Regions from separate parts of the Homo sapiens genome. Here region 1 is linked to region 2. Evidence: fine-mapped expression QTL. A gene starts in region 2. The other region holds a variant in brackets. All regions are shown on one strand. Distances are between the middles of the regions. Region 1 overlaps CARINH (colitis associated IRF1 antisense regulator of intestinal homeostasis). Region 2 holds the start of CARINH (colitis associated IRF1 antisense regulator of intestinal homeostasis).

The links. PIP is the estimated chance that this variant, and not a neighbour inherited with it, causes the effect. A credible set is the group of variants that fine-mapping cannot tell apart.
Region 1: its variant is the best candidate, but not a certain one, in a credible set for the expression of CARINH in whole blood (INTERVAL, PIP 0.79).

Annotation. Positions count from the first base shown.
Region 1 is chr5:132,473,071-132,481,399 of GRCh38, forward strand. It overlaps CARINH (colitis associated IRF1 antisense regulator of intestinal homeostasis), which reads left to right. Exons shown (of 4, transcript NR_161242.1): 4 at 2,597-2,974. Among named protein-coding and RNA genes, the nearest start is that of IRF1, 14 kb to the right of the region's middle. RefSeq lists a silencer at 162-241 and enhancers at 6,202-6,251, 6,262-6,511. The variant AAAG/A (reference allele first, on the strand shown) is at 4,272.
Region 2 is chr5:132,406,807-132,415,135 of GRCh38, forward strand. It overlaps CARINH (colitis associated IRF1 antisense regulator of intestinal homeostasis), which reads left to right and starts at 4,123. Exons shown (of 4, transcript NR_161242.1): 1 at 4,123-4,235. RefSeq lists an enhancer at 3,472-3,521 and silencers at 3,762-4,061, 4,132-4,421.

The DNA.
Region 1 (8,329 bases), 66 kb after region 2:
TCCTGTGGGGCTGCATGGTGGCTCTGTCGCACATCCGGTGTGAGCTGCGGGGCGGTGGCAGTGGCTGGGTCCTTTTCTCCCCTGGCCAGGCTACACCCTTCTGCCTGTGGGTAAGACAGAGTTTTGAAGCGTCTGTGCTCACCCTTTCCTCCCTAACACAGGATGCTGTGATCATTCACCCTATCAAAAGGCATGTGGGGTTGTGATCGTTACTGTTTGCATCTCAAGTTGTGCGGCACAATGTTTTCTCGTGTGTTATCTCACCTGAGACTCACACACCCTGTGAGACAGATAAGACAAATGATGTTATACCCATTTTACAGATGAAGAAACTGAGGCTACAAAAGATCTAGTGGCTTATTTGAGGCCACATAGCTAGTAAGTGGCAGAGTGGGGACTTTTTGCAGATCTGGCTGGCATCCAGTAACTATTTTTTTTCCTCTATACTTTTTTTTCCAGTAGTCCTAGCTTTTCCAGAGCTAAACTGAGTCCCCTTAGTATTCCCTTAGTAAGGCCAAGGACTGAGAGTGTTATGAGTATTGTGGATGTGTGGAGGGGCCATGCAACTCCTTCCTGGGAATCTTAAGCCAAGCCCTGTGGCCTCTGACTAGCTGTCCTAGGTGGCCTGACCTCAGGCAAGCCCCTCCATGACCACTCAGAGCCAGCACCTCAGCTCACTGAGGTTTGGGGAGGGGGCTCAAAGAGGCAGCTGCTTCCTATAGAGAGGTCCAGCAGAGGCACTATCCTGGGGGGCATCCTTCTTGACCCCCTCCATGCCATGGAGGCCCATTCCCTGCCCAGGGCTTTAGAGTCTGAGCTTCTCCCAGAGGGAATGGAGTCTTTCACAGAGAGGCTGTAGAGCCTTGTGAGGCTGAGTCCAACCCACGTGCAGGGATTTTGGGCAGCTGCATCCCCCAAATGGTTTCCCAGTGGATCAGTTTCCTATTGCTGCTCTAACAAATTATCATAAACAGGGGCTTAAAACAACACAATTTTTTATTTATTTATTTATTTTTTTGGATACAGGGTCTTGCTCTGTCACTCAGGCTGGAGTGCAGTGGCTCAATCTTGACTCACTGCAACCTCTCCCTCCTGGGCTCAGGCCATCCTCCTACCTCAGCCTCCCAAGTAGCCAGGACTAAAGGCACGTGCTACCACACCTGGCTAATTTTTTGTATACTTTATAGAGACAGGGTCTCACTATGTTGCCCTGGCTGGTCTCAAACTCCTGGGCACAAGCAATCTGCCTGCCTCAGCCTCCCAAAGTGCTAGGATTACAGGTGTAAGCCACTGCACCTGGCCCGTTTCTTTTCTTATAGTTCTGTAGTCAGAAGTCCAAAACAGGTCTCACTGGGCTAAACTCAAGGTGTCAACAGAGCTGCATTTCTTCCTGGGGGCTCTAGTGGAGAATCCCTTTCCTTCCTTTCCCTTTCCAGCTTTTAGAGGCTGCCTGCATTCCTTGGCCTGCAACCCCTTCCTCCACTTTCAAAGCCAGCACTGGCTGGTCAGGTTTTTCACAATGCGATCTCTCTGGTTCTGACCCTTCTGCCTCCTCCTTCTTCATTTAAGAACCCTTGTGATTACACTGGGCCCACACCAATAATCCAGGGTAATCTCTCTATTTGCAAGTGAGCTGGTTAGCAACCTTAATTCCATCTGCAGTTTTAATTCCTCTTTGCCATGTAGCAACATATTCATAGGCTCATGCATTAGGACGTGGACCTCTTTATTCCACTGTGGACCAATACTCTGCCTTCCACACCTAGCCTCTCTTCTGAGTTTTCCAAGGGCCCCCCATCCTCAGGCATCCTCAGGCATAGACAGCCGGCTGGGCCAGACCACAGTCAGGATGTTCCCGCCACTATCAGAGAGGTCCTTTCTACCTAAGTCCCCTCCCACCTGCCTGCTCCTCTTTCAGCTCGGTCTGTCCTGGATTCCTCTTCCTTCATCCTCTGCTCCCAGTCTTAGGTAGAGAAGAGCTGAGCAGGAAGTGCCAGGGGGTGTGGAGATGGAGGAGGGGGAAGGTAAGGCCTGAGGCACCAGGGCTCTGGGAGCCCAGGGAGCTGAGGCCTTTCAATCCAGACACCCTGCACTTCTCTGGCTCTGGGGCCTCTGGGGACCACACACTCAGCTCCAGGGCTGGAGGGGTGGCCAGCCAAGTATTGGAACCCTTCTGCTTGTACATCCCTAGCTGCCCTTAACAGCCACAGTTCACCTGGCCCTTTTCTTGGGTGATGACAGACTGTCTGCCTTAATTTATTCCCTTTCCCCTGTCCCTCCCTAGGCCTCAGGCTGGAACTTTCAGGAGCTTCCACGGGAGGCAAGGCCCCAGCCAGGCCTCTGTCCCTGGGCTGCTTGGTGTGGGGATGGGGGATCCAGAACCCCAGCAGGAGGGCAGATGGGGAGCACAGGGCAGGAGGGGCAGGACAAAGCCTTTGGCCCTCAGGGAGGGTGACCAACTGGCCCTGGTTTGCCTGGGACTTTCCCAGTTTTAGCACTGAAAGTCCCAAATCCTGGGAAACTCCTCAGTCCTAAGCAAACTGGAACAGTTGGTCAGCCTATCTCCAAGCCTTTTGCACCTCCTAATCTACTCTAGATCACCTCTGCAGCCTGCACAGCCGGGCCTTTGGACTCCTGGATGCTAGAGTGACCTGGGCGCTGAGGAGGGCCCCCGAGCCAGTACCAGGAAAGGATAGACTCCTGCTTGCAGCATTCCCAGCAGAGGCATCGCCTGTGGACACCGCGTCTGTGTCTGTATATGGCAGAGCTCCCAGATATATGCACAAGGGAGTGAAAAAATGTGTTTGCACCCCAGTCTCTAAAAATTCAACAGCCTGGTTACTTCTGGGTGGTATATCGTAGGTGGCTTTAATACGTGTTATTTGCTCATCTGTATTTCTTACTCTTTGCACAATTAAACCATGTTCCTTTTACTTATGTACATTTTTAATAAAAGAAAGTTGTTAATGACTCAGCCTTCTATCTCCAGTACTGCCGAAAAGAGACAAGCGGTCATGCTGCATGTCATGCACACACTGGCCCTTGTTCTGGGGACTTTGACCTTGGCTGCTGGTTGGTCATGGCCTGTTTTGCCCAGGGCTCTACTGCAGGGGCAGGGTTGGTTATTCCTCTGTGCCCTTTTTGCCTCTCAGCCTGCCTGCTCCTCTGGACCCCAGAGTCTAGCCTGGTTCCCCCAGGGGAGGGACTCAGAAAGTGCTACTATAGAGAGATGCTAACTACATCTCTGCTGAGCAGCAGGAGATGCTCTGAAGTGCCAATCCTGGCTGAACACTGTGAGAATATGGAAGAGATAAGCTGCTTGCCCCTGGGGAGCTTCCAGTCTGGTTGGCGAGATTGGGTACCCCGCAGACCCTGTGGGGACTGGCAGACAGGAAGGGACAGGCCCTAGAGGGTGAGGCTTTGCCTGTGAGGGCTGTCACTGGTCAGAGAAGGGAGGGCCCCAGGGCTCCATTGTACAAGTCTTAGGATGGCCAAAGACCAAAAATGGGGTCCTCTTCAGTGACCTGAGGCAGGCCGCACAAGCTTGGGGGTAGATGGTCTCCTGTGCCCAGAACTCTGGCTGCTCGCCACCTATGACAGAAGAATGGTGATGAACACTCACCAGGCTGTTCCAAGTCTCGGAAAGTTGGACACCCCTTCAGGTCCTCCTCCCTGTCCCACCCCACCCCACCCCTACCCCATATGGGAATGCCAGGCTGTAGCCTTCGCTGTGACCCATCCCAACTCCAGCTCCTCTCCCCATCCCAACTCCAGCTCCTCTCCCCATCCCAACAAGCCAAGCAGGAGCACTTGGAGGGGAGCCCTGGGTCCCCAGCAGAAACAGCCCTCCACTGCCTCCACAATCAGGTCATCAGCCCCTGCCCCAGTCCACTGTTGCCCTAGTGTGGCCGACATGACAGGACTTCTTGTAATTCTGGCCTAATGGTTCCCACATCCCCAAACACCAACTCCATGTCCATATGCCTCCCTTGTTACACAAAGTCAGCTTTCTCCAAGAAACCAGAGAAGCACATGATCCCCGCCACACCTCTCCAGGGGCCTCCCTCCTGATCTGAGATCCTCGGTATATCCCATGGCCTCTCTGAGCCAAGGTGTAGCTGAGTTGTGTGGGGTTTTTGTTTGTTTGTTTGTTTAACCACTGTGTAAGAACTCACTACTTGGGCCCCAATTCTGGACAAATTCCAGATTGACAGTGTGAGGGAGAGGTGGTAGCAGAACTGGACACCCCCACAACCTTGTTGCTTTGAAGG[AAAG/A]AAGGAGGGCAGAAACAGGAGGGGATCCAGCCAATCCAAGGCATTTGGCCCGAAATGGATGTGAAGACCTCACCCAGGCTGCCCCTCTGGGCTGGCACAGGAGGGCAGGGGAGGGCCTTCCCTAAAGGAAGCCTGCAGGTGAATCCCAGCGCCCGCCTGATGTAAGGTGGCAACTGGCCAGCAGCCAGAGGTGCCAGGTGTTCTCAGGGATCAAGAAACCAGGAATTAGGCCCACCAGAGCCATAGGGTCTGACCCGAGCCTGGTGGCTGGGAATGAGAATGCATCTGTGCATGGTCCTGAGTCTCACAGCCATCCAGGGTCCAGACCTCTGAGGAACTCCAGGACCCAACAGAGGGTCTGGTTTAAAGCAGAACAGGAGACTAGGTTGTCTTGCTGAGACAGAAACATGGCTAAAAAGTCCTCTTTGATCCTGGGAGCTGAGATAAGGCCTAGCAGGCCAGAGTCCCCCGTTTGCTCCAAACAGGCCTGGTGTGGCCAAGCTGCCCCCTGCACTGAGGCCAAGTTACAAGCCTGTCTGTGTCTCGGCCCCCTGGGGCCCCACCCTTCGAAACTGCAGGTGGCCTCCAGGGCATAGGTGGGGCAAACCCTACCCTGTTGGGGCCCTGGGGCCTGTAGCGGCAGAGCCATGTTGCCAGGGGTGTTGGAAGGTGTGTGTGCTGGGGGAAGGGAGGAGAGCTGAAGGCAGGGCAGCACAGCAGCTGCAGCTTTTGCCGCCTTCCCTCAGCATCCACAAGTGCTTGCTTGGCATAAGGTGCTCGGGCCCTGCCCCTTGCTAGCTCTCCCCAGCTTCTTGTGCAGGCCTCCGTGTTCTTCTCTCAGGCAGCCTGATATGGAACCAACCTGGATTCTGGGCACAGATAGATGATGTGGGTTGGAACCAAGGCTCCATACTGATTAGGTGGTGAGAGTTGGTTTCCTGGTCTGTGAACAAGGGCCGTGGTGGGGTGCCAGTGCCGTGGTACACACGTGGTGCTTGGCATAGCACCCAGCACAAAGTGAGCACTCGAGGCCTGTGTTGCCATTATCCAGCCACACTTTGAGGTCTTTTCCAGTTCTGCTCATTTGTGAGCTTGTGGGATCATCTCCTTGGGTGAGGAATGGTGGGCTGGACGTCTGCCTCCCCTCTTTCATTCAGTCCCCATGTCCTTGCTCCATAGCCTCCAGTATCTCCCCAGCTGAAGTTTCACTCAGCAGACTCTGCAGGCTTGTGTCTTACCACTGAGCCAGCAGAGGTGGACTTCTGTAACTCCTTACCCTGAGAAAACCAGCATAAATGGGTCTCTTGAGAGCTGCCTGGAGCTAGGAAAACTATGCGGCCAGCCAGCTATACCCTTCTGAGGCCTTAGACTTGGCCCCACAAGGGAGCTCCGGATGATAAAGCCAAGCTCCACCCTGCCAAGTACTTTCACCCCTGGAAAAGGAGGGCACCAGCTTCCCCTTCTCCCACCCCAGGCCTCCTTCCTCTGTGACAGCCAGCAGAACTGGGGAAAGGTTAGTGCTGAGTTCTGATGAATTGGAAGATCAGTTGTGCCCAAGTTAAGGAACAGCATTACATCTGACAGAGACAAAAGCTTTCTATAGGGTCACTATATTAGCCCTGGGTGCTCCAACAGGACTGCCTGGAGGACATCTGTACCCCCTTTCCCCTCCAAGTATAAGGGCAGAGTTTTGGATCTGTACACAGTGTGAAAGATCAAGTGGTCCCAGAGAATGACAACCTGGCTGTTTCCCAGCCCCACCAACCAGGAGACATCACTCCTAGAGAAAAAAACTCCACTTCCCAGGGCTACCCCAGGATTTCAGTTCCCACTTTGGCAGGCCCCACTGGAGACTTCCAGAAAAATCAGAGAAAGCTCTTTCCTTTGGAGTTGTAATGGTCACAACACCCTGCACACAGTGCACTGAGAGATGTTGAAAGCTGACACACCAAGAAGGGATGGTTTGCCTATTAGCTTCTAGCTTTCTTCCTATTGCCAAGTGAGCTGAATGAATAAACCAGCCCAATGAAAGTGACCAGCCAGCTATACCCTTTTGGAGTTAAGGCAAGGAAACCCATGACTAACCACAAATGCCCGCAAATGTCTGTAAACTTGGCCCAACATGAGAAATCTAGCTGGTGTGGCTGAGCACCACTTTTGTCAGTTTACCCCAGTGGAAAGTGGTCCTTGATGACAGTTATCTCATCACAACCCCAGCAAAACAGATCTTTCAACAACCTCCTAGCTCCCTCAACCTAGAACTTCCACCATTAGTGCTTATACTGAAACTCTTGAGAATGACCCACAGAAGCACTGTCAGGTCCTTAGAATGATCTAATTATTAAGCACAAACTTGGTTCAGATCTTACTAATACTGCTCCGTTTCAGGCACTGTTTGGCTAATGACTCGGTAGTGTCAGCTGCCATCACCTTTAGGTGAGCTGTCAGACCTTATTTAGTTTCTTTTCCTAGGAAAAGGCTGAAGTCTTGGTAGGATGTGATGGGACAGCTCTCCATCCTGAAAGGTCTGGCTCTATCCCACACTACTCCAGGCTTGGTCCCTAGGACCCAGCTCCATTGTGATGGGGGCCAGGGGAGAGTTTTGAGGTCCCTCCCTGGAGATTCCAAGCAATTGCTACCAATCATTTAGGACTCCTGGGATCAGAGGGGATGGGGAAATTGAGGACTACATCTTGGTTGTGGAGATTGGAAGCTGATGGACATAATTCCTCTCTCTTTTTGGTAATTTACAAGCAATTAACTTTGCTTTTAGAACTTGAGAGATTTCCACAGCTGCCTAAGACTTCACATACTCACTGCCTACCCTCCATCAGGGATTAGATTGAAGGGCAGGAGAAAAAGAAGTCAGAGCTGCTGCTTGTTCTGGGTGGTATCACTTTCCTCCCGTCAGTCCACTCTACCTTGCTCTGCACCACCTGCCATCACCCACTAGGAGAACCCAGATGGAAGCCACAGGTGGCTAGCCACCTCAATCCAAATCTTAAAAAGGGCTGGTCCCTGAAGGAGCTGGAAAAGTCCATCCTGTCTATTCCTCTGTTCCCAGGTGAAGCTATTCTTGAGAAATCCAAGTGGAGCTTCCAAGTAGAACTTCTTTTTTTTTTTTTTTTTTGAGACAGAGTCTCGCTCTGTTGCCCAGGCTAGAGTGCAGTGGCGTGATCTCAGCTCACTGCAACCTCCACCTCCTGGGTTCAAGTGATTGGCCTGCCTCAGCCTCCCTAGTAGCTGGAATTACAGGCATGCACCACCACGCCTGGTTAGTTTTTTTTTAGTAGAGACAGGGTTTCACCATGTTGCCCAGCCTGGTTTTGAACTCCTGAACTCAGGCAATCCACCTGCCTCGGCCTCCCAAAGTGCCAAGATTACAAGTGTGAGCCACCGCGCTCGGCCCAAGGGGAGCTTCTGACAAGCAGGGCCTGGGATAGGGGCCTGTCCAGGCATCCACATATAGAATATTTACCCAGCAGGAGTCCCCCTGCCACTCACACAGCATCTCCAAGATCAGGGACCAGTACTTCCTGAGCTTGACAGAGAATGAATGTGTCAGACTGACCTCTGCCCATTTTGTAGTTTTCTCATCATTTTCTCACTCAGTCTTCCCTTTTCAAGGGCCCACACTCTTCCCGAGGGCTGGGCCTAGTGAGCGGGGTCACAGTACATATGGTTTCTGGGACTGAGAAGGTGGAAGATGTGTCCATAGAGCTTTTGTTTCCTAAGCAACGTATTACTGCCATGATTCCATTCCCTAGATGATGCTGGTGATGCAAGCTGGCTTCTCTTGGCCAGCCTACCTACTGCTGGGTAGTGTTTATGCCCCATGGCCAGACACTGAAGAGGGAGACAGGAAAAGCACATATCCACACCTTCCACCCTCAGACATTCCTGTAACTTGAGCTTATCTAAGGGGGCATTGTCATATGTCAGGGGTTCCCAAACTACGGTCTTCAGAAACACTGTTTACCCTCCATAGAGGTTGTGTGCATCAGCCCAGGCAGAATCCTGCTTCATGAAGGTGTTTTCCTAATGCATGTGTGCAT
Region 2 (8,329 bases):
CCTGAGGTCTGGAGTTCGCCACCAGCTTGGCCAACATAAGGAAACCCCGTCTCTACTAAAAATACAAAAATTAGCCAGGTGTGGTGGCGGGTGCCTGTAATCCCAGCTACTTGGGAGGCTGAGGTAGAAGAATCACTTGAACCTGGGAGGCAGAGATTGTAGTGAGCCAAGACCACACCATCACATTCCAGCCTGGGGAACAAGAGCAAAACTCCATCTCAAAAAAAAAAAAAAAGACTTCCTTTTCCCAGAAAACTAAGGGCCCCCCTACATCAAAATTATTTCCCTTTGGCTGTTCAGGAACAATTGCTCATCTCCTTTCGATTTTTTGACTTTTAACTCCTCCTCAAGGAAGTTAAGGGATGTTTTTTGCTATTGGTAGGTTGTGCTTTTCTAGAGGGAAATAGTTCTAGTATTGAGATCTAAACTGAGAATTGCTGATTATCCATGGAACAAGCATTTTAAAAACAAGACCAGACCCTAGCTCCCACAGAGGACATGGTTGATAGCTTAGTACCAAAGCACAAGCATTATCTTCTGAGTGGGAAAGCAGATATGGAGCTTCCTTGCCCACCTGACACCTAAGCCAACATGTGCAGAATTGGAGCCCTCCAAAACTTGGGCCTCTTCCAAGGTTCTCCAAGTCAATGAAGGGCATCATTGTGTCAGCTTGGGTCCTCCTAGAGCAGACACCAAGATGGAATTAAACCTGGAAGAGTTTATTGGGGAAAATGCCTATGAAGAATAAAGAGGAGCAGAAGCAAGAGTAAGCAGAGAGAGCCCCACACCGTAATGCAGGTCTGACCCCTGTGAAAGAGAAGAGGGAAGGATGGAGGAGTAGATAGGAAGAGCCTCAGACTGCAGAGCCATTCTGAGAAAGTGCTGGCCAGACTGACAGGAAGCCCCAGAGTACAGGTGGCCCATTAGAGGAGTTTTGCCTCTGGCATTCCCTCTTATAGCGTCAAATGCATCTTGTAGTATTTAGGATGGCATTCTATATTTGACCAATTATTTGATTGCTTTATTACCTCACTCAAGTGTGTTTCCCGAGGGCAGAGACCACATTTATTTTTGCTCATCACTGAATCCCCAGCATTAGCAGGGTGGCTGCATTTTGTAGTTGCCACAGAATATTTGTTGAATGAAATATCTAAAAGGGTTATTTTTTTCATTTTTATCTGAATCACACATCAGGTATTTTTTTTTCCTAACCAGTGACTCCTAAGTTAGATGCTGCTTGCACCATGCTTTCATTCCATTTATATCATTCTTCAGCTGGGTTGCGTGATCATCAGCTGTGCCCCGCCCCCCAACCCTCCATTGCCCGATTCTGTAGTAAAGTCTTTTGGGACTGGCCTTGGACTTGGACTTTTGCTTCTTTTGTGTCTTTACTGACTATCAGTGCAGGCCTGGATAAAGTTCTTGTTGCAGAACTTGCTACTGCACAAACTTTTGTTCCAGGGTTAGATCAGGAAGGATAGTAAGGAAAACAGAGCTGTCTCCAAAAGGTGGGATAGAAAGCTGTCCTTTAGAAGTTAAATTATAAATCAAGCCAATCAGAGCAAAGATACAAAATGTCTCCATAAAGAAAAATAAGGGCTGAGAGACCTTACTGAGTAATGTTACTCAGTAACGCCTTGCTCTATCTAAAAATGTCCATCTGAGGAGAGGCGGCCTGGGTACCATAATACAGAGAGCCTCATCGACACAAACAGATGGTGTCCACCAGGCCCCATCTAGGGAGAAGGGCTGGCCAGGCCAGCAGGGATGAGTGAACAGTACTTCCTATAGGTTTTGACCTGTGTTGTGGAAAGAGACATCCCACATTGCCCGAGCCTGATATCATCAAACATTTAAGTCAGACAATTCACTCTTCCGATTCTGATTTTAGGCTCACTAAGCCACCTTCTGACTATGGGGCTCCAAACTGCATGGCTACAAGAAGAGAATGTGTTCATCAGGTGGCCTCGAGTCCAGTGTTCCCGACAGTCTTGCTTCTAACAGGAATGGATAAGCTTCAGGTTTTGGGGTCAGATGGCCTTGATTCAAACCCTGCCACTAACATACATAGTAACTATGTGACCTTGGGATTTCCTTCATCTTTTTTTCTCCCAAATGAAAAATAAATAGATTATAATATACCACATGATAGTAGGGAGAAATAATGAGGTAATAATGCATGTAATGCATTTAGCATAGCACTTCTCTAGCAAATAGTGAATGAAATCAGTCAGTTGTCATTCTGACTTTATGCAACAGTGCTAATCGACTCTGGTACACTGGAAGTCAGATGAGATTTTTGGCCCCACAAAGTCAAGGACCAAACCTGGACCTTGGGAAGTTGCCAAGATGAAAAACATCAGGCCGGCCTTGACCTCCTGATGCTCTCTGTTCACATGTGTGATGTCTATAAAAGGTAACCAGGATTTGGCTTATCTGCTTACATCTCTTCCTGTCTTTTCCTGATCTTCATCTTCCCAAACATAGTTTTTATGCAGAAGCAGATTTAACTCTACTTTGCTATCTTGGAGTCAAGAATTGTCCTATAAGGAGGAAGAGGCTCCAAGGCTTGCCTTTTTTGTTTTTTCTTTTTCCTTCATACTACAGACTAAAAGTAGCATCTTCTGGACAGAGAAACAGGCTGTTGTTTTTCTAAGGTCATCATTTGGCCTGCCCCACTTTCCCACCTGCTCTTGAGGGAACTATTGCAAGGACACATACAAGCCCCTACATCAGTCACAGACCAGGGCCTCCATCTTGCAGGGAATGTGCCCAAATTACAAACAGGTAAACCAAAGTGACTCTGGGCAGATTTAATAGCTCATTTTGGTTTCTTGTTCCAGTTATAACAGACTGCTCTGTGTTTGCTCTATGGCAAAAACTTTTATGTTTGCTTTGCAACAAACGTACAGACAGGGCAAACTGTGTTTGGAGTATGGTGTCTTACCAATGTTTTCTAAAAGCAAGTGAATAGAAATGCTTGCAAAAGTATTTTCAGACCTCAGTGGCCAGCGCTGAACACCGCTGTAGGAATGTCCATCAAACGTTGTGGCCATGCTCCACTCTAACAAAAACCTGGTTCCGTGGCATAATTGTGGGGGCTAATTGTCAGGCTAAGTTTCAGACACCTTCCAAAAAAAATTGCAGGGCTTCCTCAGTCTTTAAACTCCAGATAATATTGTCCAAACTTTGACAACTAACCTGTTATCATGGAGATAGCTCCAAGTTGATGGACTGGCCATTAGAGAATGTCTATCAAGCATCCAGGTAAATGACTTGGTTGCTGCCCTCAAGGAACCCACTTAGAGGCTGTCAGAAAATTTTAAGTATTTTCTTCCTTCTATTGTTCATTCCTAAAATTCTGGCAGTAGGTATGATTATTATTATTCCCATCCCACAGGGGAAGTAATTAAGTCTAACTACTTGAATATTTTGCCCCAAATCACTGACAGTAAGAGACGGCCAGACACTGAAACCTGGAATCTCTAAATGTTTAGATATTGATGGGCACCGCTTAGACCAGGGAGTCCAAACCATAGGCTTGCTGTTCCAGTTTCTCTTATCGGATGAAGGGACCCCCATTTCACCGACGTCATTGACTTTTGGGTTCTCCGCTGACCCCAGATGAGATGCCTGGTACCTCATGGTCAAGTCCCCTCCAACGGGGACTCCTCAGAGGCTTGGTCCCAGTTGCTCAGGCTGCCATCTGCCTCCTCAGGCCAGAGCCCGAGGCGCCGCCAGCGGTCAGGTCCCGGGCCGGCTGCCAGCCACAGGCCCAAGTAAACGCTGAATGAAGGGCAGATGGAGGAACCTGTCCCGGTCGGCCGAAGCGCCGCGGGCGCCTTTCCACTTACGGCGGGCCTGCCCAGCCTCCCGCCCAGCCCGGGCCCGGGTCCCGCCGAGGCAGGTGTGCGTGGCGGACTAGCTCTCGGGCACTCGGCTGGCCCAGCTCCACCCCGAACGCCACCGGGCCAGGCCACGCGCAGACCCGAGCCCGGGGCCCCCGCCTCTGGCTGCCGGCCCGCGCCCGCCGCGCGCCCCGCGTTCACTGCGCGCTCGGCCCCGGTCCCGCCTCCCGGAGGGTTTCGCTTTCGCTTTCCTGCCGATGTCGTTGAGGAAAATGAAAGCGGTCGTGGCCAGGACTGGCGCAGCTGCCGTTTCAGGCGAGGGGCGCAGAATGCAGCGGCCGCCAGCCTGGAGCGCGGGCCCTGGGGCCGCAACCCGCGCCGGGCGAGGTAAGCACAGCCCCTTCGCGGCCGCCTCGCGGGCTCCTCCTTGCGGACCCGGCGGGCCCGACGCCAGGCGTTTGACCCGGGCAGGGTCAGGGGTTCTGCCGTGGGGGCGGGGAGGGCCTGAGAAGCGGCACCCTTGGGTTTCGTGGCTTTGAGCCTCCAGGCCAGGCTGGAAGACCTGGGAGGCCTCAGACAAGCGTGCCAAGGGGCTAGCAGCCCGGGGTCGAGCTGGAACCGTGGCAAGTCGGGCCACCTGAGCACGCCTTTCCCTTTTGTAGAGCACCGACCTCCCTGGGTGTTGGTAAAAATCAAAAGTGGGAGGGTGTACGTAAAATGCTGAACAGAATGCCTAACCTGAGCTCATAATCTACTCCCTCTGACCTGTCAGACTCATTTTTCCCACTGGGCCCCACCCCATACCTCATGTAGTTTGCTTAAGTTTCCTAGATCTGGTGCACCTGGGGGCACTTGGAGTGCCTTCCAAGTGTTCCTTGACCGAGCAAGCTGGCAGCTCATCTCCCTTGATCACGGGCATGGAGAGCAACTAGGCCAGGATGTGGCCCCCTTGCCCTGGCCCTGTCCATGTGAAGTCAGGGCCTTACTCTGCTGGGGCCCCCATCCCGGGGCTAGCATAGATGTCAGGGATAGGTGCACTCACAGACCGAGTCCTTCCCAGACCAGGAAATTTCCAGTCCACTGCATCTGCCAGCAGAAGCATGAAAGATGCGTGCCACCTTGTCTTTGCCCTTCGTCAAGTATAGCCAACTCATTCTTGGTATGCAGGAAGGGGGTTCCACCCCAGGGCTGTGGAAACAGCCCCTGCCCTTAGGGCGTTCCCATCCCCTGAAGAGAGAAAATATGTATTCAAGTTACCCATCAGGCAGGTTGTGTAGAACAAGGACAGGTGAGTGAAAGAGCTAAGAGCTGAGAGTAAAGTGACTAAATCATCAGAAACTTTACATTTAAGTTATGACAGGTTTTGCAGGCCAATACCAAGAATCCCCTTTAACTCAATTTTTGTCTCAATAATAATGAATTCAGCCTAATCACACAGATCTGATCATACGGCCCATTACTGAAACAAAACTTGAATGATCTTTACTTTGAGAAAACCATCTGAATTTGACAAAAGATGGTCTAAGTTCCTAAGTTTCAAAACATGGAGTCCGCCGCTGCCCTACCTCAGCAGGATGGTGTTGAGTACTGATTGCTTTTAGAAAATGCTGCTCTTGCCGGGCACGGTGGCTCACGCCTGTAATCCCAGCACTTCAGGAGGCCGAGGCGGGCTGATTACCTGAGGTCGGGAGTTTGAGACCAGCCTGACAAACATGGAGAAACCCCGTCTCTACTAAAAATACAAAATTAGCCAGGCATTGTGGCACATGCCTGTAATCCCAGCTACTTGGGAGGCTGAGGTAGGAGAATTGCTTGAACCCGGGAGGCGGAGGTTGCAGTGAGCCAAGATCGCGCCACTGCACTCCAGCCTCGGCAACAAGAGCTAAACTCCGTCTAAAAAAAACAAAGAAAGAAAAAAAGAAAATAGAGAAAATGCTGCTGTTTTCATGAGCCAGAAAATTAGATGCACTTCCATTCACATTCCATTGGCATGGACTAGTCTCATGGGTCTCACCTAATTGTAAGGTGGCTGGGAAATGTAGCCTGGTGGTGTTCCCAGGAGGAAAAGAACGAGAGACTGGTGAGCACTAGTAACCTCTTCCACAATCGACTAATGTGGTGAATTACTTTATCATGATGTATTTGTAATACACTTTCGTATTTGATTAGATAATATTTTATTTAGGAGTTTAACATCTATGTTTATAAGTGAAACTATCCTGTATTTTTCTTTATTTGTACAGTCCATATTTAACATTTCAAAATCAAGTAACAAATTGGGCAATGTTTTCTCTTTTTTTCTATTTTCTAAAGCAACTCCATTAAGATAGAGATTTTCTGCTCCTTGGAAGTTAGTAGGAGGCACTTGTAAAATCTTCTGGGTCTGAAACTCTATGGGGAAGAGGTTTCAAAATTATTTGAGTCTCTTAAGTGGTTATTCACATTTTTGTGCCAAATTTGGCAATTTTTATTGTCTAGAAATTATTCATTTCATCTGTATTTTCAAATGTATTATCATGTGTTTATATTATTCCTTTATAAGTTTTAAAATGTCTGTTTTATTTGTCATTTCTTCCTTTTTCTGTAATCTCATTTTTAAAAAATCTTCTGTCAGTTATTCTTGATCAGTCTCACTAGAGGTTTGTCTACTTTCAAATAAATACTTCAAGTTTTGTTAACCACCTTTTTTTTGGTCCTCTATGTCCTCTATTTTGCTGATTCTGCCCTTATGTTTATTATTCCATTTTTTCATGTTTCTTTAGTCATATGCTTTTGTAATAAATTCAAACAGTATAGACATTTGTAAAGTGAGACAGGAAAGTCCACTTCAGCCTCCATAGGCAACCACAGATATCATATTGGTGTGTTTTTCTGGACCCTTTCCTATGCTTATACAAATATTTTTCTACAACTTTCTAAACTGAAACTCATAGGTAAACTGCTCTTTATAGGCAACCACAGATATCATATTGGTGTGTTTTTCTGGACCCTTTCCTATGCTTATACAAATATATTTCTACATCTTTCTAAACTGAAACTCATGGGCCTCTTTCTGTGGTGTATACACACACATACACATACATACACACACATACACATCCATTAAAATGGAATACATACCATAATTTATCCATTTTCCATTTATGGGCATTTAGGGTGAAAGTCTTGGTCTTTTAACAATGGAATTTAATTCATTCATATTTATTTTGATCACTGATAAATGTGGTCTTATTTTTGCCATCTTGTTTTGCCATGTATTTATCATGTGTGTTTTTTTTTTCCTTGTGACTCTATGGATTCATCAAAGTGTATTTGTCCCCTGTTTCTTCTTTCCTTCTTTTTATTCAGTGAGTTGGAAGTTCTATATCTTACAATAGGCCATCATTTAGTTCTTAAGCTTAGATAAACTTGTATTTTTGTCTCTGGCAAAAATTAATCAGAACCTATAACCTCCTTCCAAACATAATAAATCTTTTTTTTTATTTTTTGTTTTTGTTTTTGTTTTTGAGATGGAGTCTCGCTCTGTCACCCAGGCTGGAGTGCAGTGGTACAATCTCAGCTCTCTGCAACCTCCACCTCCCGGGCTCAAGCACTTCACCTGTCTCAGCCTCCCGAGTAGCTGGGACTACAGGTCCCACCATGCCCAGCTAATTTTTGTATTTTTAGCAGAGACGGGGTTTCACCATGTTGGCCAGGATGGTCTCAATCTCTTGACCTAGTGATCCACCCGCCTCAGCCTCCCAAAGTGCTGGAATTACATAAGTATGTTTTCTCACGTCTCTTTTTCCTTACCTTTTCCCCACAGGCACATATACACATAGGTATCTGCCTGGGAATTATTAAAATAACCTGAACAATTCCAATTGTTATTAATTCTTCTTGCTTCAAAATACAATTTCCTTTTTCTATGTTAGAAATATTAACAATTGCATTAATCTACAATCTAACCTATTTGTGCAATTGCATATTATACCAGGATAGGAAAGTTTAAACATGTATTTCTTTTAGACTTTTCATTGAATTGCTGAAAATTCATAGTGAATTGTATCTTGAGTAATGCTTCTCTGAGTCTCTTATTTCCCAAAAGTATACTTTGGAATCCATGCAATTCTGATCGTTGTTTGACCTTTGCTGGCACAAAGGCATTCTGAAATATTTGCAAATGCTAAAGTCACTTCCTCATCTTTTACAGAGTTTACTTCAGCTTGGTGAAACCAAGTGCAGTATCAGTTTGTTGTAAGCTTACCACTAATTAAAGGTTCATAAAATAGCCCTGCCCTAGGGTCAGGGACTAGCTAGAAGAGCATGAAAATAGCCTTTGAAGATTCAGCTGCTGGATATTTTACATCAAAAAGCTGAAACGTTTTAACTATTTTAATATTTTGTTTATAGTACTTAATATTTGTGAACGTGAAGTAAAATGGACACAGTCATAGTAAAACTGTGGTAAAACTAACTTGGATGGTGTTTGGGCTGTGGTT